4 linked regions of the Homo sapiens genome follow. The protein of the gene in region 3 purifies or fractionates together with the protein of the main gene of each other region. This does not show direct contact. Each region holds a gene or a part of one and is shown on either strand. Other genes may lie near its edges.

Evidence for each region.
Region 1: the proteins of CDK6 (region 3) and CCNT1 purify together in Homo sapiens (affinity purification with mass spectrometry; 3 studies listed by BioGRID and IntAct, with this or other methods). This does not show direct contact.
Region 2: the proteins of CDK6 (region 3) and UBE2W purify together in Homo sapiens (affinity purification with mass spectrometry; 3 studies listed by BioGRID and IntAct, with this or other methods). This does not show direct contact.
Region 4: the proteins of CDK6 (region 3) and EIF2AK1 purify together in Homo sapiens (affinity purification with mass spectrometry; 3 studies listed by BioGRID and IntAct, with this or other methods). This does not show direct contact.

What each region holds. Positions count from the first base shown.
Region 1 is NC_000012.12:48,713,686-48,720,766, forward strand, and holds the start of CCNT1 (cyclin-T1), read right to left. Parts: upstream 3,023-7,081; 5' UTR 2,991-3,022; coding exon 2,830-2,990; exon of another isoform or gene 2,600-2,829; intron 840-2,599; coding exon 758-839; intron 1-757. UniProt on the Homo sapiens protein: Regulatory subunit of the cyclin-dependent kinase pair (CDK9/cyclin-T1) complex, also called positive transcription elongation factor B (P-TEFb), which facilitates the transition from abortive to productive elongation by phosphorylating the CTD (C-terminal domain) of the large subunit of RNA polymerase II (RNA Pol II).
Region 2 is NC_000008.11:73,805,861-73,812,892, reverse strand, and holds part of UBE2W (ubiquitin-conjugating enzyme E2 W), read left to right. Parts: intron 1-2,263; coding exon 2,264-2,419; intron 2,420-7,032. UniProt on the Homo sapiens protein: Accepts ubiquitin from the E1 complex and catalyzes its covalent attachment to other proteins.
Region 3 is NC_000007.14:92,604,390-92,609,574, reverse strand, and holds the end of CDK6 (cyclin-dependent kinase 6), read left to right. Parts: 3' UTR 1-4,654; downstream 4,655-5,185. UniProt on the Homo sapiens protein: Serine/threonine-protein kinase involved in the control of the cell cycle and differentiation; promotes G1/S transition. Phosphorylates pRB/RB1 and NPM1.
Region 4 is NC_000007.14:6,049,165-6,056,196, reverse strand, and holds part of EIF2AK1 (eukaryotic translation initiation factor 2-alpha kinase 1), read left to right. Parts: intron 1-1,492; coding exon 1,493-1,651; intron 1,652-6,151; coding exon 6,152-6,285; intron 6,286-7,032. UniProt on the Homo sapiens protein: Metabolic-stress sensing protein kinase that phosphorylates the alpha subunit of eukaryotic translation initiation factor 2 (EIF2S1/eIF-2-alpha) in response to various stress conditions.

The sequences.
Region 1 (7,081 bases), on a different chromosome or scaffold from region 3:
CGGCAGGAGGACTGCTTGAGCCCAGAAGGTTAAGGCTGCAATGAGCCATAATCAAATCACTGCATTCCACCATGGACAACAGGGCAAGACCCTGCCTGTCTCCCTACCCCAGCAAGAAAAAGAAAGCTATACCTAAATTCCACATGATTTCCCCTTTAATGTTACTCCTCCAACCCCAAAATGTTGACTTTAGATGTCTGATAATCTGTTTTTTGGGGTTTTTTTTGAAGACAGGGTCTCACTCTGATGCCCAGGCTGGAGTGAAGCGACTCAATCTTGGCTCACTGCATCCTCAACTCCCTGAGTTCAAGCAATCCTCTTGCCAGCTGCTGGAGTAGCTGAGACCACAGATGCATACCACAACACCCAGCTACTTGCTTTTTGTTTTTGTTTTTGATATTTTGTAGAAATGAGGTCTCATTATGTTGCCCAGGCTGGTTTTGAACTCCTGGGCTCAAGTGATCCTCCCATCTCAGTCTCTCAAAGTGCTGGGATTACAGTTGTGAGCCACTGCACCCGGCCTAATCTACTTCTTTAGAGAATCGACATGGATATACTAAATCCACTAGACAAGTAGACACTTAACAGGAAAACTGAAAAGCTGGATTCAGAACAGCAACACAGCACATAATGGAAGTGATCAACCCTAAATTCTAAAGTTCAAGTTACAGTTCAGTAGCAAAGACCAACCACAAATGGAATAGGTAGGTGGAATCAATCACAAAAGGATTATATCATATAAAAAAATTATACTTACATTTCCAGGGAACTGTGTGAAGGACTGAATCATGTAGAATCGATGCATGTATACTATAGCAGTGTTGATAGTCAATTGTGAGCTGAAGTGTTCAAGTTAAGATCCAAAAACAGGCAGGTATAATTCTGGAAAAGATAACCTCTATCTCCCTCCCAAAAGGATGAAATGGCCAAGCAAGTAGATACTACTAAATGAAAATCATACTTATCTCTCCAAATCAAAGAATATGTCTGTTTTCTTTCACCAAATTATTAATCGCCAACTGACACTTAGCACAATGCCTTACACATAACAAATATTTAATATAAATGTACTGAATGAATAAACAAACATCTCAGGATGTATGAATCTAGACAGATTTTTTTAAAAACTATATAAGGCGGCCAGGCGCGGTGGCTCACACTCTGTCGCCCACACTGGAGTGCGGTGGCACCATCTTGGCCCACTGAAACCTCTACCTCCCAAATTCAAGCGATTCTCCTGCCTCAGCTTCCCCAGTAGCTGAGATTACAGGCGCCCACCAACAGACCTGGCTACTTTTTGTATTTTTAGTAGAGACATGGTTTCACCATGTTGGCCAGGCTGGTCTTGAACTCCTGGCCTCAACTGATCGACCTGCCTTGGCCTCCGAAAGTGCTGGTATTACAGGCGCGAGCCACCGCGCCTGGCTGACAACCTTAATGACAACACACATACAAAAAGGAAAGCATTTTAAGGATGCACTGAAATAGAATTTCGAACAAAAAGATTTAACTCCATACTGACAGGATGCTTAGGAAACAAACCTGGACATCAGCAGGAAACAAACTGGCGATAAAACAGACACCCATTTTGAGATGAACACACCCTTAAGATACACACATTACTGTCAGCCACACATTTAAATAGAAGCTGCACCCAAGAAAATTTTCACACGCAGAGTGGAAAGAAATTTAAAACTATACTAGTTTTCTCCACCATAAAATAAGTGTATTTCCTAACAAACAAAAATATGTGGGAGAGGTTACCTCATTTTTTTTTTAATTTTTTTTTTCTGAGACGGAGTTTCACTATTGTTGCCCAAGCTGGAGTGCAGTGGCGCCATCTCGGCTAACTGCAACCTCCGCCTCCCGGGTTCAAGCGATTTTCCTGCGTCGGCCTCCTGACTAGCTGGGATTACAGCTGCCCGCCACTACGCCGGGGTAATTTTTTGTATTTTTAGTAGAGACAGGGGTTTAATCATGTTGGCCAGGCTGGTCTCGAACTCCTGACCTCAGGTGATCCACCCGCCTCGGCCTCCCAAAGTGCAGAGATTACAGGCGTGAGCCACCGCATCCAGCCGTTACCTCATTTTTGAAAATGAAATACATATCATCACTCTAAGTAAGTTAAGGACCCGGTATTTTGTAAACTATTTAAAACATTAGATTCGTGGGTATCCCCTACAAACGTAAACTAACATCTTTCCTCTGAAATTCTATAAAACAGTAGCTACTAACTGAGCATCTGAATGCAAAGCACTGTGCTGGACACAGAATCAAACACAAGAGGTATTATCCCATTTTATAGACAAGACGGCCAAAAATTTGAGAGGTCACTTAAACAGCTAGTAGATGAGGAATGGATTTTGGACCAAGGCTGAGGCATTAATTCTAGTCCACCCTTTATAACACTTTCAGGTACTGAATTTCTCGAAATTTACACACTAGGTTTGGGAGGCAGCCGTCAACAGAGAAACCTCTGCCAGACCTAGACCCCTAGGGCACAGCGGAAAATGAGAATCTTAACGTCACCAGAGCAGATCAGAACACAATGAAGACAGAGTTGGAAGGGCTGGTTAAAACACAAAGCCGGGAAGGATACGAATTCCCAGCAAGGCTGGCGGCACGGGTGAGCGAGCGGGAAATCAACTCTGCCTCGCTTCCCTAGCGCTAACTGAGTTTCAGCCCGCCCCATCGTGGGCTCTCCCAACTAGACATCCAGCTTCTGCCCACCTTCTTCCCCACTTTCGTCCCCCCCACAGAGCCTGAGACCCGGACGCCAGAGCATGGCGGGACCAACTCCAAGGCCGAAGGCCTAGGCCACAAGGATACACGTTAAGACGCTGCCCCATGTCCTGAAGCAGATTGGCCGCCTGCTGGCGATAAGAAAGTTCTTTATCTGGGTCCACGCCAAAACGACGGGATGGGCTATTTTCCAGCTGTTCTCGAGTGAAATACCACCGTTTGTTGTTGTTCTTCCTCTCTCCCTCCATAGTGCTTCAACCAGAAGGCAGCGGCGAAGGCTGCAGGCACTTCCCAGCGTCACCTAAGAGGCGACCCACATCCGCTGTGCGGGGGCAACTGCGACTTGACGAACTTCCGCTAAGCGTCGACCGCCGGGTTGTTACTTGCCTCCGTAGAGGAAGCAAAAGTCAAAGGACCTACTTCCGGAATGCACCTCGCTACACCCCGTAGCCGAGTTAACAGCCAATATGCGACCAGAAAAAACCTTGAGGCGAGGACGCAGGCGCGTCACGTGACCGTTGGGCGGTGGAGTGGGGTTAGAAGTTCTTTCTTAAAAACCGTGTATCTTCCCGCGAGAACCGGATTGAGCGTTGGCGCCCCGGGTCAGGCTGCGAGGCCGCAATTATAGTGGGATGGGGCGGCCGCCCACGCGCCGCTTGGCGGTTCTTACGAGAACTTTGTTTGTGACGGCAGTGGTGATGTAAAATGGGGCAGATGGGCCGGGCGCGGTGGTTCACGCCTGTAATCCCAGCACTTTGGGAGCCCGAAGCGGGCGGATCACGAGGTCAGGAGTTCGAGACCAGCCTGGCCAATATGGTGAAACCCCCGTCTCTACTAAAAATACAAAATTAGCCGGCGTGGTGTCGCGCGCCTGTAGTCCCAGCTACTCGGGAAGCTGAGGCAGGAGAATCGCTTGAACCCGGGAGGCGGAGATCGCAGTGAGCCGAGATCACGCCACTGCACCCCAGCCTCCAGCCTGGGTGAGAAAGCGAGACTCCGTCTCAAAAAAATAAAATAAGTAAAAATGTGGCAGATGAACTTGAAAGAGAAAGTAGGTGAGGCTGTCAGAAACTGAAAAACAGAATCAAATGGTGGGGCTCTTTCGTATATCGGAGCATAAAGCAACTAGAAGGCTGTTACATTGTTGGTAGCAATGTAAAATGCGACAACCCATTTGGAGAGGTCGCTTTAATGTGTAGCCAAAGGCATGAAAACATTCTCACGTTGTTCGCCAGTGATCCAACTTAAAGGAATAAAATGAAATTAATAACATTAATTAAGAGCTTACATGTCCCAGGCACAATACTGACTTAAATATACTGTTTCATTTATTCAGCACAACTCTAAGAGGTAATTTTTAAGTACGTTTGCGAATGGGTGAACTAAAACTGCCCCTTGAGTGTGGAAAGCCTCCACCACTACCCCTCACTTGCACAGATTAGCAAGTTCTTGCCCTCTGTCAAAATATTTCCCAGCTCCTTTGCCGGGCGCGGTGGCTCAAGCCTATAATCCCAGCACTTTGGGAGGCCAAGGCGGGTGGATCACCTGAAGTCGGGAGTTCGAGACCAGCCTGGCCAACATGGTGAAACCTCATCTCTACTGAAAATACAAAAATTAGCCAGGCGTGGTGGCGCACGCCTGTACTCCCAGCTACTCGGGAGGCTGAGGCAGGAGAATCATTTGAACCCGGGAGGCAGAAGTTGCAGTGGGCCGAAATCGCGCCACTGCACTCCAGCCTGGGCAACATTGCGAGACTCCTTCTCAAAAAAAAAAAAAAAAAAAAAGATACATCCCAGCTCCAGCCTCTGATAACTGTTTGGTGCTGGGCAAGATAGTTAACTTCTCTATGCCTCTTTTCTGTGATAATACCTATGTTTTAGATAGTGAAAGGGAGTAAAGATTTAATGAGTAAAAAGTATTTATAATAGTACCTAGTACTTAGAAAATATTCAGTAGCCCTTATTGTTATAATATTTGTTACATTGTATTGAAATTGAAGGCAAGAGCAATGCCTTCATTTTTGTATGGCACTTACCTAGTAAAGCCCTGGCCCTAGTAAATAGTCCATAAATCTTTGTCAGATAAATGTGCAAAACACCCACAATACAGAAACTGAGGCTTTGGGAGTTTGCCCTCACTACACCACTAATAAGTGTAGATCTTAAATCTAATTCCATTGATCTTTCCATTCACGCAAGCTGTATTCCTGCTTTTCTGGAACCATATTCAGTTTACCTTGATTAAATATGGGTAATTTTAGATAGATTTGGATAATATTAGAATCCTTCATCTTGCTTTGATAATATTTTGGGTTTTGTCATTTCTAGGCATGGGTGATCTTACTATGCTTGATTGTCATTCATTCTCAGAAGTATTTCTTTCCATTCAGGTCACCTCTGCCATATACTGCCTGTAGTTAGTATTAGCTCCATTTTACCCTGGAGAAATTGAGGTTCAGGAAGATTTAAATGACTTACTTCTAGTTATAAAGTAAAAGAACTTGGGATTTCAAATTTCTTCCCTCACAGACTCTTTACTATTAAGAGAATAAGCACTTACAAAATAGATTTTTTAGTAGAATAAGCACTTTTTCAGTTATGTAGTCATGTATGTTATCTTTTGAACAGCTGTGTTAGTCCATTTTCACGCTGCTGATAAAGACAAACCCAAGACTGGGCAATTTACAAAGGAAAGAAGTTTAATGGAGAACTCACAGTTCCACGTGGCTGGGGAAGCCTCACAATCATGGCGGAAGGCAAGGAGGAGCAAGTGACATCTTACATGGATGACAGCAGGCAAACAGAGAGCTTGTGCAGGCAAACTCCCATTTTTTTAAAACCATCAGATCTCATGAGACTCATTCACTATCATGAGAACAGCACAGGAAAGACCCACCCCCATAATTCAATCACCTCCCACCGGGTTCCTCCTACCATATGTGGAAATTGTGGGAGTTGCAATTCAAGATGAGATTTGGGTAGGGACACAGTGCCAAACCATATCATTCCGCCCCCAGCCCCTCCCAAATCTCATGTCCTCACATTTCAAAATACAGTCATGCCTTCCCCACAGTCCCCCAAAGTCTCAACTCATTTCAGCATTAACTCAGAAGTCCACAGTCCAAAGTCTCATCCGAGACAAGCAAGTTCCTTCCACCTATGAGCCTGTAAAATCAAAAGCAAGTTAGTTACTTCATAGATACAATGGTGGTACAGGCATTGGGTAAATACAACCATGCCAAATGGGAGAAATTGGCCAAAACAAAGGGGCTACAGGCCCCATGCAAGTCCGAAATCCAGCAGGGCAGTCGAATCTTAAAACTCCAAGATGATCCCCTTTGACTCCCTGTCTCACATCCAGGTCACACTGATCCAAGAGGTGGGTCCCCATGGTCTTGGGCATCTCTGCCCCTGTGGCTTTGAAGGGTACAGCCTCCCTCCTATCTCCCTTTCCAGGCTGGCATTGACTGTTTGTGGCTTTTCCAGGTAAATGGTGCAAGCTGTCAATGGAGCTACCATTCTGGGATCCGGAGGACCATGGCCCTCTTCTCACAGCTCCATGAGGCAGTGGCCCAGTAGGGATTCTGTGTGGGGGCTCCAACCCCACATTTCTCTTCCACACTGCCCTAGCAGAGATTCTCCATGAGTGCCCTGCCCCTGCAACAAACTTCTGCCTGGGCATCCAGATGTTTCCATACATCTTCTGAAATCTAGGCGGAGGTTCCCAAAGCCCAATTCCTGACTTCTGTGCACTCACAGGCTCAACACCATGTGGAAGCTGCCAAGGCTTGGGGCTTGCACCTCTGAAATCACAGCCCAAGCTCTGTGTTGGCCACTTTCAGCCATGGCTGGAGTGGCTGGGATGCAGGGCACCAACTCCCTAGGTGGCACACAGCACACATGGGGACCTTGGGCCTGGCCCACGAAGCCATTTTCTCCTAGACCTCTGGGCCTGTGATGGGAGGGGCTGCCATGAAGGCCTCTGACATGCCCTGGAGACATTTTCCCCATTGTCTTGGGTATTAACATTCAGCTTCTCTTTAGTTATGCAGATTTCCTCAGAAAATGGGTTTTTCTTTTCTATCACGTCAGGCTGCAAATTTTTCAAACATTTATGTTCTGCTTCCCTTATAAAACTGAATGCTTTTAACAGCACCCAAGTCACCTCTTGAATGCTTTGCTGGTTAGAAATTTCTTCGGCCAGACACCCTAAATCATCTCTCTCAAGTTCAAAATTCCACAAATCTCTAGGATGGGCAAAATGCTGCCAGTCTGTTTGCTAAAATATAACAAGAGTCACCTTTGCTCCAGTTCCCGACAAGTTCCTCATATCCATCTGA
Region 2 (7,032 bases), on a different chromosome or scaffold from region 3:
GCTGGAATGACAGGCACGTGCCACCGCTCCCAGCTAATTTTTTGTATTTTTTAGTAGAGACGGGTTTTCGCCATGTTGGCCAGGCTGGTCTCAAACTGCTGACCTCAGGTGATCCACCCACCTCGGCCTGCCAAAGTGCTGGGATTACAGGCATGAGCCACACCGAAAAATATCTTTTAAAAAAATAATTGTGGCCAAAGAAGAAACTCTTGGGTATTGCTTGTGTTTTAATGAAAATATCCTACTGGTCAAATGGCTTTTTATGGCAAAATGAATACCTCAAGGTAGATGTCCGTAAGATTTGTAAACTCCCATTCTGTACATCTACAACACATGGGAGTATCAGATGCATATGATGTAATAAACTATAGTTCATATTTATGAAAAATAAAATTTCATTAAAAAACAGTTGTGGACAGACTCCAGTGTGGAACTATAAGACCATGTAAGCATTTGTTTTCTTTTACAGAGCAATACTTTTTTTTAGCAAAAAGTAATGAAGAGGGTACTAGCACCGATAGATGTAATTGAGATAAATGTCATGCATAGAGCGTAGCCATTACAAAATCAAAGTCCTTTCAGGGAGTCTTCTGCAATTAGGTAGGATAAGTGACTTGATTTCTCTTATTTTGAGACTTTACTTTTGTTTTTTAGCTTTTTTTTTTTTTTTTATTAGTGGGAATGGAGAGTTGATGTCCAGAATTTAAAGAAAAAAAAGAAATAGATGCAAGTATGGAAAATCGTTCCTTTGGGAAAAAAATGCCTTTTGCTGTCTTATCTAGTCTTAGCCAAGGAAATGTGTCCCATATGTTAGTTAATATATTTGAAATATTAGAAGACTCTACTCATATGAAAGACTGCTTTATTAACATGTAAATCTTTGTAAAATTGTAACATTGTAACAAAATCAGATTCATAGCTAGATATTTAAAATATATATAAAACTTAGCTTATGGTAATTTCCTATAACATATTCCATATTAAACTATAGCATACCTTATTCTATTCATATTTACCTCACTGGTTCTTTTTTCTGCTCTATAAAGAGAAAAAAGGGTATGCCTAAAGCAATACTGTATATCTTTTATCAGTTTCTGCTATAACTTAAGGTAAGATTTCTCCTTACTGATATTCTGTTGTACTTGGGTATGAGGCAGTTTGCAGGGCTGAGATACTGTAAATCTGATTTAGGAATTGTTGGTTTATATCTGATGGGTTTTATAAAAATCTAATTATACTTACTAAATTAGAATCTGTGAAAGCAGGACACTTGAATTTGTATTTTTAAGCAGATCTTCCAACTATGTGTTCTTTTGTTTTTTTGTTTGATTTTTGGCGAGGTCAGGAATTAGGAATTACTGCTAACCTGTAGAATAAATATAGTACACAGTGTAAACATAAGACTTCTGCTTTCTTCGAGCAACTTTGGACTATGCTTACAGATTCCTCAGGATATATGAATTTATTCTCCTGCCTATTTGCTTAGGTAAATAAGTTTAAGAAAAACTACTTTAAGATATTTGTTGAATTATTAGAGCAAAGGAAGGAAATAATAGATTTATTACCATTCAAAACATTGCTGAGACATGATAGAGAAAGGAAAAACAGTGTTACAGAAGAATTGAGTAAAAGGGAAAGGAGAGTAAAACTGCAAATTGGGAGACTTGGTCAACTTTTGTATTTTTCGTCTAGGCACATAGTTATTTACTGATTAACAGCTAGTAACTTGTACCCATCATAATGGATGTGTAAGTTTAGAGGAGGTGGAATATATAACAGTCATTTCCCTTTGCACATGTGCCTTAGAGCTAACATTGTTAACAGGTAGTAGTAGGAGGAATGTTCCTACCACCTGTCATTCATATTTTCCCAAAATTGAATATTTTTGTTTGGAATTTTATCATACTTGATTTTTATATGCAGAGAGCAATGAGCAAAATCTGAAAAATCATTCTTATAAATGTAGTTGTCTTTCACTAGTAAAAAATACGTAGTTTAGAATTTTTAAGGAGAATTTATCAAAAATAACCGAAATAAAAAATAATTTGGCATCTTTTCCCTACTATGTGGTTATTCGTTCAGTGAAACCAATACTTACTGAGTTAATGAGAGTAAACAAATAAGCAGTTGTTTATCATGTTCCTGGCACTGATTTTGGTGGTTTTTTGTTTTTTTATAATCAATATTTGTTATATGTGGAGAATATTTTAGTTTTTGGTAGTAGAGAATATTTGAGTTTTAATGGAATTTTATTCTCTCTTAGGTCATGTTTACTGGTGAAAATATTCCTGTTCATCCTCATGTTTATAGCAATGGTCATATCTGTTTATCCATTCTAACAGAAGACTGGTCCCCAGCGCTCTCAGTCCAATCAGTTTGTCTTAGCATTATTAGCATGCTTTCCAGCTGCAAGGAAAAGGTAAGACTTTTCAGAATTATTCCAGATAATATCTCTTCTTTCAGTTAGGTAGATAAATAATTTTAATATGTAATTATTTTTATTTGGAGGAAGGATTTATGCTTTTTATTTGAAAATTATAGGGAATTTCATGTTTAGTAATAAATTGGAAAGTTATTTTGATACCTTTCATTCCAAATAGAAGTTTTACATGTTGAATGGGGTAGAAGCCAGACTTACTGTTTTATATTCTTTTAAACAGGAAATGTACGGTATTTTCTTAAAGCTGATTTTATTCCCAAAAGCATGCACAGGTAAAAGTATACAAGAAATTCTTTTTGTAGATTTCACAGTGGAAAGCCTCAGAAAAGTGCATCATAGCTTCCTTCTCCCCTCTGCCAGCTCCCACCCGATCAACCTGTTTCAGGGAATTTTTCAGGAACCAGAGCTTCCCTGTCCTAATGATTAGGTTGAAGGAGGAAGACCAGTTTACCAGTCGAATTTTCAGGGCGTTTCTTCCTGTTCTCCTTTATTAATCCACAGATTCTATGTCTGATGGAAGTGGGGGGAAAAAAAACAAAAAGAAAAAAAATCACTTAATTAAACTTAAAATGTAGGCTGGGCACGGTGGCTTACACCTGTAATCCCAGCACTTTAGAAGGCCTAGGCAGGTGAATCACCTGCGGTCAGGAGTTCGAGACCAGCTGGCCAACATGGTGAAACCCTGTCTCTACTAAAAATACAAAAATTAACTGGGTGTGATGGTATATGCCTGTAATCCCAGCTACTCAGGAGACTGAGGTAGGAGAATTGCTTGAACCCAGGAGGTTGCAGTGAGCCAAGATCATGCCACTACACTACAGCCTGGGTGACAGAGCGAGACTCCATCTCAAGAAAATAATAATGAAATAAATTTAAAATATACATATAAATTTAGGATACCCTTTAAATGTATCTGAATCCTCTGTACACTTCTGACACTCTTGTCATTCCTGCTTAAGGGTTAGTATAGCATAACATTTATGTATTTCTACATTTTAAAACCCCTCTTAAATCCCTATGAGGGTTTTCCTTTTGCATTCTGTTTAAAGGAGAAACAGCTTTGCCCTAGAGGTTAGGGAGTTATTTGTGTTTTACAGTTTTCTTTCCTTTTCTCCAAATTGAACTGATTGTCATTTTTATTAAATTAGTATTTGGAGAACTTTTAAGATAATAGTTCATTTTTTAATGATAGGTTATTTAGAATCTGAAGCACTCTAAGCCACAGCATGTGAAATAATAGGTTAAATTGGTTTTGTTTTGTTTTTTTACTCATTTGTTGCTTATTGCTGTTATATTTTCTCCTCTCACCCACCCCCAACACACACACACGTTTTAAACTTTTATGTGTAGGGCAAAGCAGTTTGTGGGTACAAGGCCTTCTATGTTCCTGTTACGCTTAAAGACTATAGAAAGGTGAGACGGTAACAACAGTATTTAATAAGAAAGTTATTAAGAGATTAATGTCAGCGATATCTGTACATAGTCTTGCATGTGCCTCATGATTATTAGATTTTATTTACATTTAAATATAATGATTTATTATTAAAAACTAGAGAATGACTATATTCTGTGTACTTCCTTCATCTTCCTCTAACCCTCACCATTCCCCTTACATTCTAGTTGTCTGCTACTAGTGTTTCTTGTACACTTAGTATAAGACTAATCATTCCATTTAAAGCACTAATAAACTATGTTTTTACTGTAATAGTTGTATAATATTTAACCAAGATGATAATACAGAAATCAAGATTTCCATGAAATACGATAAAATTCAAAAAACATTTACTAGGTACCTAGTATGTGCTACTTTTACTGTGCTAAGTGATAAGTTACAAAGATGAAGAGGAAATTTGCCTTGGCATTGAGACGATCTGGCATTAGAGAGATCTAAGCTCCAAAGAAACCTTAAAAAGTGTTTTAGGCCAGGTGCAGTGGCTCACGCCTGTAATCCTACTACTTTGGGAGGCCGAGAAGGGTGGAGCACTTGAGGCCAGGAGTTCAAGAGCAGCCTAGGCAAAATGGCTAAACCCTGTTTACTAAAAATAGAAAAATTAGCTGGGCGTGGTGGCGCATGCCTGTAGTCCCAGCTACTTGGGAGGTTGATGCACAAGACTTGCTTAAACCCAGAGGCTGAAGTTGCAGTAAGCTGATATCACGCCACTGCACTCCAACCTGGGTAATAGAGCAAGACTCTGTCTCAAAAAAGAAAAAAGAAAAGTATTTTAAATACCCATCTACACGTTTTATTATTATTAAAACGGGTAAATTTTATTCCGTAGTGGACATGGTTCTATGGGCTTTACTTTGTTAATTCTACTACTATTAAATATTTTACTTTAGGTGTTTGGGACTTTAGTCATAATTCTTCTATTCCAATTTCCTTTTACACAGTCAGGAGTGGTTCCATAAACTGAAGGTATTTAAATCCAGTATGTCATTAGATTGTAGTGGATTAAAGATAATTTCTGATATTGAGATCACAGGACTTTCAGTAAATTCCACTTTATTTGCATGCCTTTGTAATATATTTACATTGTTCAAACTTTTCAGTTTGTATCCCATTCCTAAAACAATTTCGTAAGACTTCTTTTGTATAGTTTCTTTTCCAAGAACTGTATCTCCCTGATCATTTGTCAGGGAGATAAATGATTTAAGCAAATAGAATTGAGTATTTCTTTTTTCTAAATATGTATTTTTTGAAGACTTTTCTGATGATTCTTGGGTTCTAATCAACATATACATAAAATGAGTTTGTGAAAGTATCTGCTCTAGTAGTACCAATTCCATATGAACATAGATTTAACTTTGTAGAATCATCCCTTCCTTGAAGTAGTCAGGCATCTAATTTCATAATATTCATTTTTTAGGAATTTTCTCAAATTGTGTCCACAGATTGACTTGGAATACCTAAATGTCTTGACTGTCTTATGCTCTAATGTTTCTTTTTGTTAAATGAAATTACTAATATTAACACATAAGAGCATTGTGAGGCTCAACTAGACTGATAGTTACATATATGAGTTTTAGAAGTGCCAAATGGACTAACTGTTTTCCTTCCTGCTATCACAGAGTCCTACTCACGATTGCTTTCTGGTTAGACTTTCCTTAAATGATGTCATACCAAATTCACTTATTTTCATTAGCCTCAGGTAGAGGAGAGGATTCCCTTAATCTCTCATTTTCATTAGCTTAGCTAAGCAGATTTAAGTCTGAAAATAAATCCTGCATATACACTATACAATATTTAATGATAGGAAAATAATCAAGTTATTGGAATGATTCCGAAAGGCATAAAGGAGACTAAAGGATAAGGATATCTATCATAGTATCTATAAACTTTAATATAGCTTTAATATAAATTTGATGTTTCCAAGTCTTTGTAGAGGGTAACATTTTCTTTTGTCTAGGCAGTATGCAACAAATTTCAGGAAAAGTCTCTTCCATAATATATCTTCAGTGTTGTTGGCATCACTTTATCTGCGGTAGCTCCCTTGCGGAGCTGCCATATATTTCTCATATATTGTTCTAGTCAGGGCATATGTTCAGCAGAAAGGCCAATTATAGTAGAAATGCCAATATATATTTTTCCCATTTTTTCTCTTAAATATTGTTTAGAAACTGAATCTTCTGGTCTATCTTTGATGGTATTCTATTACAGTAAAAACAGTTCTTTGTGGAGGTTTGTACATTGCTATACTTCTCCCAACAAATCTAGTTTAGTAGACTTTTCTGTTTTGTTTTGAGACGAAGTCTGGTTCTGTCACGCAGGCTGGAGTGCAGTGGCGCAATCTCGGCTCATTGCAAGCTCCGCCTCCCAGTCTCACGCCATTCTCCTGCCTCAGCCTCCTGAGTTAGCTGGGACTACAGGCGCCCGCCAACACGCCCGGCTAATTTTTTTTTTTTTTTTTTTTGTATTTTTAGCAGACAGGGTTTCACCGTGTTAGCCAGGATGGTCTCGATCTCCTGGCCTCGTGATCCACCCGCCTCGGCCTCCCAAAGTGCTGGGATTACAGGCGTGAGCCACCGCGCCTGGCCCTTTGTTTTATTATTTATTTATTTTTTGAGATGGAGTCTCACTCTGTCACCCAAGCTGGAGTGCAGTGGCACCATCTCGGCTCACTGCAACCTCCACCTTCTGGGTTCAAGCAATTCTCCTGCTTCAGCCTTCCAAGTACCTGAGATTACAGATGCCCACCACTGCGCCCGGCTATGTTTAAATTATTATGTGAATTTGACTTTTCTCATCAGTCCTTTTTCATTCCCTTTATAATTTATTTAATTTTTTGTTTGTTTGTTTTGAGACGAGAGTCTCGCTCTGTTGTCAGGCTGGAGTGCAATGTCACAATCTTGGCTCACTGCAACCTCTGCCTCCCGGGTTCAATCAATTCTCCTGCCTCAGCCTCCCAAGTAGCTGGGATTACAGGCACGCACCACCATGCCCAGCTAATTTTTTTGTATTTTTAGTAGAGACTGGGTTTCACCATGTTGGCCAGGCTAGAACCTAACACAGACCACACTCAAACACGCTTATTATTCCTTTTTTAAATTTAGGTGTTAAGCATACACATTTCCTGGAATACATTTATAGTTTT
Region 3 (5,185 bases):
CATCAGTAATTCAGTAGACAAAACTTTTGTCTGAAAAATTGCTGTATTGAAACAGAGCCCTAAAATACCAAAAGACCAGGTAATTTTAACATTTGTGGAATCACAAATGTAAATTCATAAGAAGCTCTAATTAAAAAAAAAAAGTCTGAAGTATATGAGCATAACAACTTAGGAGTGTGTCTACATACTTAACTTTTGAAGTTTTTTGGCAACTTTATATACTTTTTTTAAATTTACAAGTCTACTTAAAGACTTCTTATACCCCAAATGATTAAGTTAATTTTAGAGGTCACCTTTCTCACAGCAGTGTCACTTGAAATTTAGTAGGGAAGGATATTGCAGTATTTTTCAGTTTCCTTAGCACAGCACCACAGAAAGCAGCTTATTCCTTTTGAGTGGCAGACACTCGACGGTGCCTGCCCAACTTTCCTCCTGAGTGGCAAGCAGATGAGTCTCAGTAATTCATACTGAACCAAAATGCCACATACACTAGGGGCAGTCAGAAACTGGCTGAGAAATCCCCCGCCTCATTCGCCCCTCTGCTCCCAGGAACTAGAGTCCAGTTAAAGCCCCTATGCGAAAGGCCGAATTCCACCCCAGGGTTTGTTATAACAGTGGCCAGTCTGAACCCCATTTGCTCGTGCTCAAAACTTGATTCCCACTTGAAAGCCTTCCGGGCGCGCTGCCTCGTTGCCCCGCCCCTTTGGCAGGAGAGAGGCAGTGGGCGAGGCCGGGCTGGGGCCCCGCCTCCCACTCACCTGCCGGTGCCTGAAATTATGTGCGGCCCCGCGGGCTGCTTTCCGAGGTCAGAGTGCCCTGCTGCTGTCTCAGAGGCATCTGTTCTGCAAATCTTAGGAAGAAAAATGTCCCTAGTAGCAAACGGGTGTCTTCTGTGCATAAATAAGTACAACACAATTCTCCGAAAGTTCGGGTAAAAAGAGATGCGGTAGCAGCTGCCCTGTGTGAAGCTGTCTACCCCGCATCTCTCAGGCGCTAAGCTCAGTTTTTGTTTTTGTTTTTGTTTTTTTAAAGAAAAGATGTATAATTGCAGGAATTTTTTTTTATTTTTTTATTTTCCATCATTCTATATATGTGATGGTGAAAGATATGCCTGGAAAAGTTTTGTTTTGAAAAGTTTATTTTCTGCTTCGTCTTCAGTTGGCAAAAGCTCTCAATTCTTTAGCTTCCAGTTTCTTTTCTCTCTTTTTCTTTGTTAGGTAATTAAAGGTATGTAAACAAATTATCTCATGTAGCAGGGGATTTTCATGTTGAGAGGAATCTTCCGTGTGAGTTGTTTGGTCACACAAATAACCCTTTCTCAATTTTAGGAGTTTGGATTGTCAAATGTAGGTTTTTCTCAAAGGGGGCATATAACTACATATTGACTGCCAAGAACTATGACTGTAGCACTAATCAGCACACATAGAGCCACACAATTATTTAATTTCTAACTCTCTGTGGTCCCTAGAAAAATTCCGTTGATGTGCTTAGGTTAAAGTTCTGAAGATACCCGTTGTACCCTTACTTGAAAGTTTCTAATCTTAAGTTTTATGAAATGCAATAATATGTATCAGCTAGCAATATTTCTGTGATCACCAACAACTCTCAGTTTGATCTTAAAGTCTGAATAATAAAACAAATCCCAGCAGTAATACATTTCTTAAACCTCACAGTGCATGATATATCTTTTCATTCTGATCCTGTGTTTGCAAAAATATACACATGTATATCATAGTTCCTCACTTTTTATTCATTTGTTTTCCTATTACCTGTAGTAAATATATTAGTTAGTACATGGAATTTATAGCATCAGCTACCCCCAGGAACAGCACCTGACAGGCGGGGGATTTTTTTTCAAGTTGTTCTACATTTGCATAAATTATTTCTATTATTATTCATGTATGTTATTTATTTCTGAATCACACTAGTCCTGTGAAAGTACAACTGAAGGCAGAAAGTGTTAGGATTTTGCATCTAATGTTCATTATCATGGTATTGATGGACCTAAGAAAATAAAAATTAGACTAAGCCCCCAAATAAGCTGCATGCATTTGTAACATGATTAGTAGATTTGAATATATAGATGTAGTATTTTGGGTATCTAGGTGTTTTATCATTATGTAAAGGAATTAAAGTAAAGGACTTTGTAGTTGTTTTTATTAAATATGCATATAGTAGAGTGCAAAAATATAGCAAAAATAAAAACTAAAGGTAGAAAAGCATTTTAGATATGCCTTAATTTAGAAACTGTGCCAGGTGGCCCTCGGAATAGATGCCAGGCAGAGACCAGTGCCTGGGTGGTGCCTCCTCTTGTCTGCCCTCATGAAGAAGCTTCCCTCACGTGATGTAGTGCCCTCGTAGGTGTCATGTGGAGTAGTGGGAACAGGCAGTACTGTTGAGAGGAGAGCAGTGTGAGAGTTTTTCTGTAGAAGCAGAACTGTCAGCTTGTGCCTTGAGGCTTCCAGAACGTGTCAGATGGAGAAGTCCAAGTTTCCATGCTTCAGGCAACTTAGCTGTGTACAGAAGCAATCCAGTGTGGTAATAAAAAGCAAGGATTGCCTGTATAATTTATTATAAAATAAAAGGGATTTTAACAACCAACAATTCCCAACACCTCAAAAGCTTGTTGCATTTTTTGGTATTTGAGGTTTTTATCTGAAGGTTAAAGGGCAAGTGTTTGGTATAGAAGAGCAGTATGTGTTAAGAAAAGAAAAATATTGGTTCACGTAGAGTGCAAATTAGAACTAGAAAGTTTTATACGATTATCATTTTGAGATGTGTTAAAGTAGGTTTTCACTGTAAAATGTATTAGTGTTTCTGCATTGCCATAGGGCCTGGTTAAAACTTTCTCTTAGGTTTCAGGAAGACTGTCACATACAGTAAGCTTTTTTCCTTCTGACTTATAATAGAAAATGTTTTGAAAGTAAAAAAAAAAAATCTAATTTGGAAATTTGACTTGTTAGTTTCTGTGTTTGAAATCATGGTTCTAGAAATGTAGAAATTGTGTATATCAGATACTCATCTAGGCTGTGTGAACCAGCCCAAGATGACCAACATCCCCACACCTCTACATCTCTGTCCCCTGTATCTCTTCCTTTCTACCACTAAAGTGTTCCCTGCTACCATCCTGGCTTGTCCACATGGTGCTCTCCATCTTCCTCCACATCATGGACCACAGGTGTGCCTGTCTAGGCCTGGCCACCACTCCCAACTTGACCTAGCCACATTCATCTAGAGATGGTTCCTGATGCTGGGCACAGACTGTGCTCATGGCACCCATTAGAAATGCCTCTAGCATCTTTGTATGCATCTTGATTTTTAAACCAAGTCATTGTACAGAGCATTCAGTTTTGGCTGTGGTACCAAGAGAAAAACTAATCAAGAATATAAACCACATTCCAGGCTGCTGTTTTCTCTCCATCTACAGGCCACACTTTTACTGTATTTCTTCATACTTGAAATTCATTCTGCTATTTTCATATCAGGGTACAGACTTATAAGGGTGCATGTTCCTTAAAGGTGCATAATTATTCTTATTCCGTTTGCTTATATTGCTACAGAATGCTCTGTTTTGGTGCTTTGAGTTCTGCAGACCCAAGAAGCAGTGTGGAAATTCACTGCCTGGGACACAGTCTTATAAGAATGTTGGCAGGTGACTTTGTATCAGATGTTGCTTCTCTTTTCTCTGTACACAGATTGAGAGTTACCACAGTGGCCTGTCGGGTCCACCCTGTGGGTGCAGCACAGCTCTCTGAAAGCAAGAACCTTCCTACCTATTCTAACGTTTTTGCCCTCTAAGAAAAATGGCCTCAGGTATGGTATAGACATAGCAAGAGGGGAAGGGCTGTCTCACTCTAGCAACCATCCCTCCATTACACACAGAAAGCCCTCTTGAAGCAAAAGAAGAAGAAAGAAAGAAAGCTTATCTCTAAGGCTACTGTCTTCAGAATGCTCTGAGCTGAATGCTCTTGCTCCTTTCCCAAGAGGCAGATGAAAATATAGCCAGTTTATCTATACCCTTCCTATCTGAGGAGGAGAATAGAAAAGTAGGGTAAATATGTAACGTAAAATATGTCATTCAAGGACCACCAAAACTTTAAGTACCCTATCATTAAAAATCTGGTTTTAAAAGTAGCTCAAGTAAGGGATGCTTTGTGACCCAGGGTTTCTGAAGTCAGATAGCCATTCTTACCTGCCCCTTACTCTGACTTATTGGGAAAGGGAGAACTGCAGTGGTGTTTCTGTTGCAGTGGCAAAGGTAACATGTCAGAAAATTCAGAGGGTTGCATACCAATAATCCTTTGGAAACTGGATGTCTTACTGGGTGCTAGAATGAAAATGTAGGTATTTATTGTCAGATGATGAAGTTCATTGTTTTTTTCAAAATTGGTGTTGAAATATCACTGTCCAATGTGTTCACTTATGTGAAAGCTAAATTGAATGAGGCAAAAAGAGCAAATAGTTTGTATATTTGTAATACCTTTTGTATTTCTTACAATAAAAATATTGGTAGCAAATAAAAATAATAAAAACAATAACTTTAAACTGCTTTCTGGAGATGAATTACTCTCCTGGCTATTTTCTTTTTTACTTTAATGTAAAATGAGTATAACTGTAGTGAGTAAAATTCATTAAATTCCAAGTTTTAGCAGAATGTGTTTTTTTTCTTTCTTTTTTTTTTTTTTTTTTTTTTTTTGGTGCTTCTTATTTGCAACCTGGCCATGTGGTAGAAAGAATGTGTTTTAAAGTTTTACTTTAAGAGATTCCTTTTCAGGCTTCTAGTGTTTAAAAAGTAAATAACAGCTAAGTGAGCTTAGAACTCATTCAACAATTGGCCGGGCACGGTGGCTCATGCCTTTAATCCCAGTACTTTGGGAGGCCGAGGCAGGCAGATCACCAGAGGTCAGGAGTTCAAGACCAGGCTGGCCAACGTGGTGAAACCCTGTGTCTACTAAAAATACATGAAAACTAGCCGGGCATGGTGGCACGCGCCTGTAATCCCAGCTACTCAGGAGACTGAGGCAGGAGAATCACTTGAACCTGGGAAGTGGAGGTTGCAGTGACCTAAGATGGCGCCACTGCACTCCTGCCTAAGCAACAGAGCAAGACTCCATCTCAAAAAAAAAAAAGAACTCATTCAACAATCATGCGTTGCTTAATGACTGAGATACAGTCTGAGAGATGC
Region 4 (7,032 bases), about 87 Mb from region 3:
CTCAGCCTCCTGAGTAGCTGGGATCACAGGTGCACACCACCACGCTCACCTAATTTTTGTATTTTTAGTAGAGACGGTGTTTCACCGTGTTGGCCAGGCTGGTCCTGAGCTCCTGACCTCAGGTGATCTGCTTGCCTCGGCCTCTCTAAGTGCTGGAATTACAGATGTGAGCCACCACACCCAGCTAGTTTTTTTTTTTTTTTTTTTTTTTTTTGAGACAGAGTTTCACTTTGTTGCCCAGGCTGGAGTGCAATGGCACGATCTCAGCTCATCTCAACCTCTGCCTCCTGGGTTTAAGGGATTCTCCTGCCTCAGCCTCCTGAGTGGCTAGGATTGATTACAGGCATGCGCCACCACGCCTGGCTAATTTTGTTTTTTCGTAGAGACAGGGTTTCTCCATGTTGGCCAGGCTGGTCTCGAACTCCTGACCTTAGGTGATCTGCCTGCCTCGGCCTCTCAAAGTGCTGGGATTACAGGCATGAGCCACTGTGCCCAGCTAGGTTTTTTTTTTTTTTTTTTTACCTGTTTAGTCATGTCTTAAATAAACAGTAAGTGAGAACTTAACGACCTTCAGCCTTAGTGCCAACTCGTCTGTCTGCATGGTCTCATACAGTGCAAAGAGGATGGGGTTCGGGAGTCAGTCTGATCTGCCTTGTTCACTGGTTCCTCAGCCTCTCTGAGATCAGTGTTTTCATCTGTAAAATGAGGATGAACACTTACCTTATATTATTTTTTGAGCATTGAAGGAGATTGTACATGTAGATAAGTAGCACACGCTCATCGAGAAAAGTTTCCATTTTTCCTATCTTTCCCTCTGTCATCTGCCCAACTTCTTTTTTTTTTTTTTTTTTTTTGAGACGGAGTTTCGCTCTTGTTGCCAAGGCTGGAATGCAATGGTTGATCTCGGCTCACCGCAACTTCTGCCTCCCAGGTTCAAGCTATTTTCCTGCCTCAGCCTCCTGAGTAGCTGGGATTACAGGCGCCTGCCACCACTGCCCGGCTAATTTTGTATTTTTAGTAGAGATGGTGTTGCTCCATGTTGGTCAGGCTGGTCTCAAACTCCTGACCTCAGGTGATCCACTGGCCTCAGCCTCCCAAAGTGCTGGGATTACAGGCATGAACAACCGCGCCCGGCCATCCTCTGCCTAACTTCTTTCTTTATGCCTGGGTCTTGGCTGTCTTCTCAAAGGAAGGAAGCCATCCTAGTCCCACTTCCTTGCGTATTGATTTATTTGTACTATTGGACACATCAGAAAACTGTTTCTCCTCTGTCTCACGGCATCTTTCTGCTGATCCTCCAGCTTCCAGGATTCAGCTCCAAATTCACTTCCAGAAAGCCTTTCTTGATTAACCCAACTCAGCATAACTATTCTTTTGGTTTTTATCTGCTTACATTTAAATATTTCATGTTTCATTAATTAGAATATACGGTTTTGTCATTATGAGACAGGTTTACCATTAATTTAAAAATATTTTCCTTTTTAATTTTTAGAATCTGATGTTCCAGCAGAAATCCAGGTGTTAAAAGAACCCCTACAACAGCCAACCTTCCCTTTTGCAGTTGCAAACCAACTCTTGCTGGTTTCTTTGCTGGAGCACTTGAGCCACGTGCATGAACCAAACCCACTTCGTTCAAGACAGGTGTTTAAGCGTAAGTAAGAATAAATGAATCTTGCTAAATAAAGCTTGTAAAGGCTGGGCTCCGTGGTTCATGCCTGTAATCCCAGCACTTTGGGAGGCTGAGGTGGGCGGATCACCCGAGGTCCGGAGATCGAGATCGGTTTGGCTAACATGACGAAACCCCCTCTTTACTCAAAATATGGAAATTAGCCGGGTGTTGTGGCAGGCACCTGTAACCCCAGCTACTCGGGAGGCTGAGGCGGAGAATCAGTTGAACTGGGGAGGTGGAGGTTGCAGTGAGCCGAGATAGCGCCACTGCACTCCAGCCTGGGTGAAAGAGTGAGACTGTCTCAAAAATAAATAAATAAAGCTTGTAAAAATACTGTGTTGCTGTTCTCACTTATTCATGGGAGGTAAAAATTAAAACAATTGAACTAATGGAGATAGAGTAGAATGATGGTTCCCAGAGGCTGGGAGGATAGTGGAGGATGGTTAATGGGTACAAAAATATAGTTAGAATAAATTGGATCTAGTATTTGATAGCACAGCAGAGTGACTACAGTCAACAATAATTTATTGTACATTTAAAAAATAATAAAAAAGATGGCCAGGTGCAGTGGCTCATGCCTGTAATCCCAGCACTTTGGGAGGCCAAGGTGGGTGAATCACTTGAGGTCAGGAGTTTGAGACCAGCCTGACCAACATGGTGAAATCCCATCTCTATTAAAAAAAAAATGCAAAACTACCCAGGCGTAATGGCACATGGCTGTAATCTCAGCTACTTGGGAGGCTGAGGTAGGAGAATTGCTTGAACCCGGGTGGCGGAGGTTGCAGTGAGCCGAGATCACGCCACTGCACTCCAGCCTGGGCAACAAGAGCTAAAGTCCATCTCAAAAAAAAAAAAAAAAAGAATGGGCTGGGCGCGGTGGCTCACGCCTGTAATCCCAGCACTTTGGGAGACTGAGGCAGGTGGATCATGAGGTCAAGAGATCGAGACCATCCTGGCTAACATGGTGAAACCCTGTCTCTACTAAAAATACAAAAATTAGCTGGGCATGGTGGCGGGCACCTGTAATCCCAGCTGTAATTTGGGAGGCTGAGGCTGGAAAATCATTTGAACCTGGGAGGCGGAGGTTGCAGTGAGCTGAGATCGCGCCATTGCACACCAGCCTGGCGACAGAGCAAGACTCAGTCTCAACAAAATAAAAATAACGAAAAGAATATAATTGGATTGTTTGTAACACAAAGAAGGGATAAATGCTTTAGATGATGGATACCCCATTTATCCTGATGTGATTATTACACATCACATGTCTGTATCAAAATATCTCATGTACCCCCATAAATATATACATCTACCATATACTCACAAAAATTAAAAATACAAAATAAAAATATGTTGTTTAATGCTGTGAGTCTGGAAAGCGTCTGGTATACAAAAATTGGAGTGAAATAAATATTAATGATTTCCCTACTTCAATTCAGCTTACATTTTTCTTTGAGTAATTCCTTACAAATATAACTGTGGATCCCATAATTGCATAAAATTGAATAAATGAAATATAGTTCTTTTGCATCTATACTATGATAATGCTCACAATTTTTTTTTTTCTCGAGATGGAGTCTCACTCTGTTGCCCAGGCTGGAGTGCATTGGCGCGATTTCCGCTCACTGCAATCTCCGCCCCCCGGGTTCAAGTGATTCTCCTGCCTCACCCTCCCGAGTAGCTGGGGTAGGCACGTGCCACCATGCCCGGGTAATTTTTGTATTTTTAATAGAGACGGGGTTTCACCATGTTGTTCAGGCTGGTCTCGAACTCCTGACCTGGTGATCCACCCGCCTCGGCCTTCAGTGTGCTTTGATCACTCCTGTGAGTAACCAGTGTGCTCCAGTCTGGGTGACATAGTAAGACTCTGCCTCTAGAGAAAAAAAAAAAAAAGAATAGTTCCAGCCAGAGATTCTGAGGTTCTTTTTTTTTTTTTTTTTTTTTTTACCAAAACAGTCTCAAACTTATAGATACTTTTATGTGGTCTTAAAACTGAATGCGTTTTTAGTTAAAGATACATTATCATTTTGATAAACTTGATGGGACATGAAAAATGGTACAAATATCTGTACATTGTACACCTACTGCTTCTTGAATAAAGCAAATAATACACTCTGCATTCCAAGCAGTGGCATATGTGGTGGGAGGTGGGGTGAACAGAAGGAAGTGTATTCCTTAGGTTCTGAAGCATTGGTGACTGGGAATTATTGTATTAGTCTCATCAAATAGAGAAGCAGATTAGAAAAATACAGTAATCTTGTACATGATTAAAGCAATCCTGTGAATTTTACTGATTTTAAGATAATTTTGAATTCCTTATATACAGCCTCTTTAGATGACTTTTTTTTTTTTTTTTTTTGATAAGGAGTCTTGCTCTGTCGCCCAGGCTGGAGTGCGGTAGTGCGATCTCGGCTCACTGCAACCTCCACCTTCTGGGTTCAAGCGATTCTCTTGCCTCAGCCTCCCAAGTAGCTGGGACTACAGGCACCCACCACCACGCCCGGCTGATTTTTTGTATTTTTAGTAGAGACGGAGTTTCACTGTGTTAGCCAGGATGATCTCGATCTCGTGACCTCATGATCCACTGGCCTTGGCCTCCCAAAGTGCTGGGATTACAGGTGTGAGCCACCATGCCCAGTCTAGATGACTGAAGTTTAAAACAAGGTTATTTAAATAAATGTTTTTGATGTAATCAGTGAGTTGATAATCTAAATGGAGAGTTTTCTATTTCTTTTTTCTTTTTTTTTAGCAACAAATGTGGCTTTCATAACTGTAGAGTTTTTGATGCAGAAAGAATATCCTTGGTGGGGCACGGTGGCTCACGCCTGTAATCCTAGCACTTTGGGAGGCTGAGGTGGGCGGGTCACGAGGTCAGGTGTTCGAGACCAGCCTGGCCAACATGGTGAAACCCCATCTCTACTAAAAATACAAAAATTAGCCAGGTATGTTGGCGGGTGCCTGTAATCCCAGCTACTTGGGAGGGTGAGGCATGAGAATCCCTAGAATCCAGGAGGCGGAGGTTGCAGTGATCTGAGATCGCTCCACTGCCCTCCAATTTGGGCAACAGGGTGAGACTCTGTCTCAAAAAAAAATTAGCCAGGCGTGGTGGTGTGCACCTGTAATCCCAGCTACTCAGGCGACTGAGGCAGGAAAATCGCATGAACCCTGGAGATGGAGGTTGCAGTGAGCCGAGATCGTGCCATTGCACTCCAGCCTGGGCGACAGAGTGAGAGTCTGTCTCAAAAAAAAAAAAAAAAGAAAGAAAAAAAAATGTCCTCATTGGTATCTGTATTTGTTGAATGAGTAGGAGCCAAGGCACCTTTGTGGAAACTTACTTTTTCTAAGGAGCTTGATATTTGGTTTACACACGTGTACCATGGGCTCTTTGTATGTTGGTTAAAGGTATTTCGTGACGATGAATGGTCACTTTTGTTGTAAGTTCTCATCATATGTTTGCCCTCCTGCTCTTATTCTTCTCTTACTGCCTAACAGCAAAGGGTAATGTGTGGAATGTCAGAAGAGTTTGTTTACTCTTTTTTTTGTTTGCCCTTTTTTTAGAAATGGCTTAGTACTTTACTGACTAGTCTTGGTAAACAAGTGACTGTACAGGGTAAGAGAAGTAATTATAGGCCGGGTGCAGTGGCTCATGCCTGTAATCCCAGCACTTAGGGAGGCCAAGGTGGGTGGATCACGAGGTCAGGAGATCGAGACCATCCTGGCTAACACAGTGAAACCCCTTCTCTACTAAATATACAAAAAAATTAGCTGGGCCTGGTGGCAGGCGCCTATAGTCGCAGCTACTCAGGAGGCTGAGGCAGGAGAATGGCATGAACCCGGGAGGCAGAGCTTGCAGTGAGCCGAGATCGCGCCAGTGCACTCTAGCCTGCGTGACAGAGTGAGACTCCATCTCAAAAAAAAAAAAAAAAAAGAGAAGTAATTATAGTTGTGCTTTTCATGAATGAGTGTACTAGTTGTTCCTTCTCTTTTAGAGAATCATTCCCCAAGTTTCTTCGCTTTTTAAAAAAATTTATCTAAGGGCTGGGCCTGGTGGCTCATGCCTGTAATCCTAGCACTTTGGGAGGTGGAGTTGGGCAGATCACTTGAGGCCAGGAGTTCGAGACCAGCCTGGCCAATGTGGCGAAACCCCGTCTTTACTAAAAATAGAAAAATTAGCTGGGCATGGTGGCACACGCCTGTAATCCCAGCTACTTGGGAGGTTGAGGCAGAAGAATCACTTGAACCCGGGAGGTGGAGGTTACAGTGAGCCAAGATAGTTGTCACTGCACTCTCTGTCTCAAAAAAAAATTTCTTTTACGTTATTCTAGAGAACATTCTCCAAGTTTAACGTGTTTATAAATATAGTATTTTTCCTATTGAGGTTTTTGTATATATTGCTATTATTACACGTTATTCTCTGTGTACACTTTAAAATTGCCATTTTATTAAAGATGTTTCTAATAATAGTTTTTCATATTCTTTTTATAGTACTTTGCCAGACGTTTATCAAAATGGGGCTGCTGTCTTCTTTCACTTGTAGTGACGAGTTTAGCTCATTGAGACTACATCACAACAGAGCTATTACTCACTTAATGAGGTCTGCTAAAGAGAGAGTTCGTCAGGTAAGCCCTAAAAAATATACTTTGGGTATGACAAAAATATACTTTAATTTTAAGATAATTATATTTTAAAGCACTGTGAAATTCTGATTATAAAACAAGTTTTTAAAAGTATAAACTCTAGGCCAGGCATGGTGGTGTGGCTCATGCCTTAATCCCAGCACTTTGGGAGGCTGAGATGGATCATTTGAGGCCAGGAGTTCAAGGCTGCAGTGAGCCATGGTTGTGCCACTGCACTCCAGCCTGAGCAGCAGAGTGAGAACCTGCCTGAAAAAAAAAAAAAAAAAGAGAGGAGAGGCAAAGGAGAGGCCACAGATGGACTGGGATCTTGAGACAATTTCAATTTATTTTTGTTTTGTTTTGTTTCGTTTTGAGACAGAGTCTCGCACTGTCATCTGGGCTGGAGTGCAGTGGCGCAATCTTGGCTCATTGCAACCTCTGCCTCCCAGATTCAAGGGATTCTCCTGCCTTAGCCTCCCAAGTAGCTGGGACCACAGGCACCTGCCACCACACCCAACTAATTTTTTGTATTTTCAGTAGAGACAGAGTTTCTTCATGTTGGCCAGGCTGGTCTCGAACTCCTGACCTCGTGATGTGCCTGCCTTGGCCTCCCAAGTGCTGGGATTACAGGCGTGAGCCACCGCGCCCTACCTAATTTATGGTTTTTAGTAAGATGGGAGGTGGTACAGGATTTTGATTAGAGGAGTGACACAATCTGACTTACATTTTAGTGGGGTCACACTGGCTGCT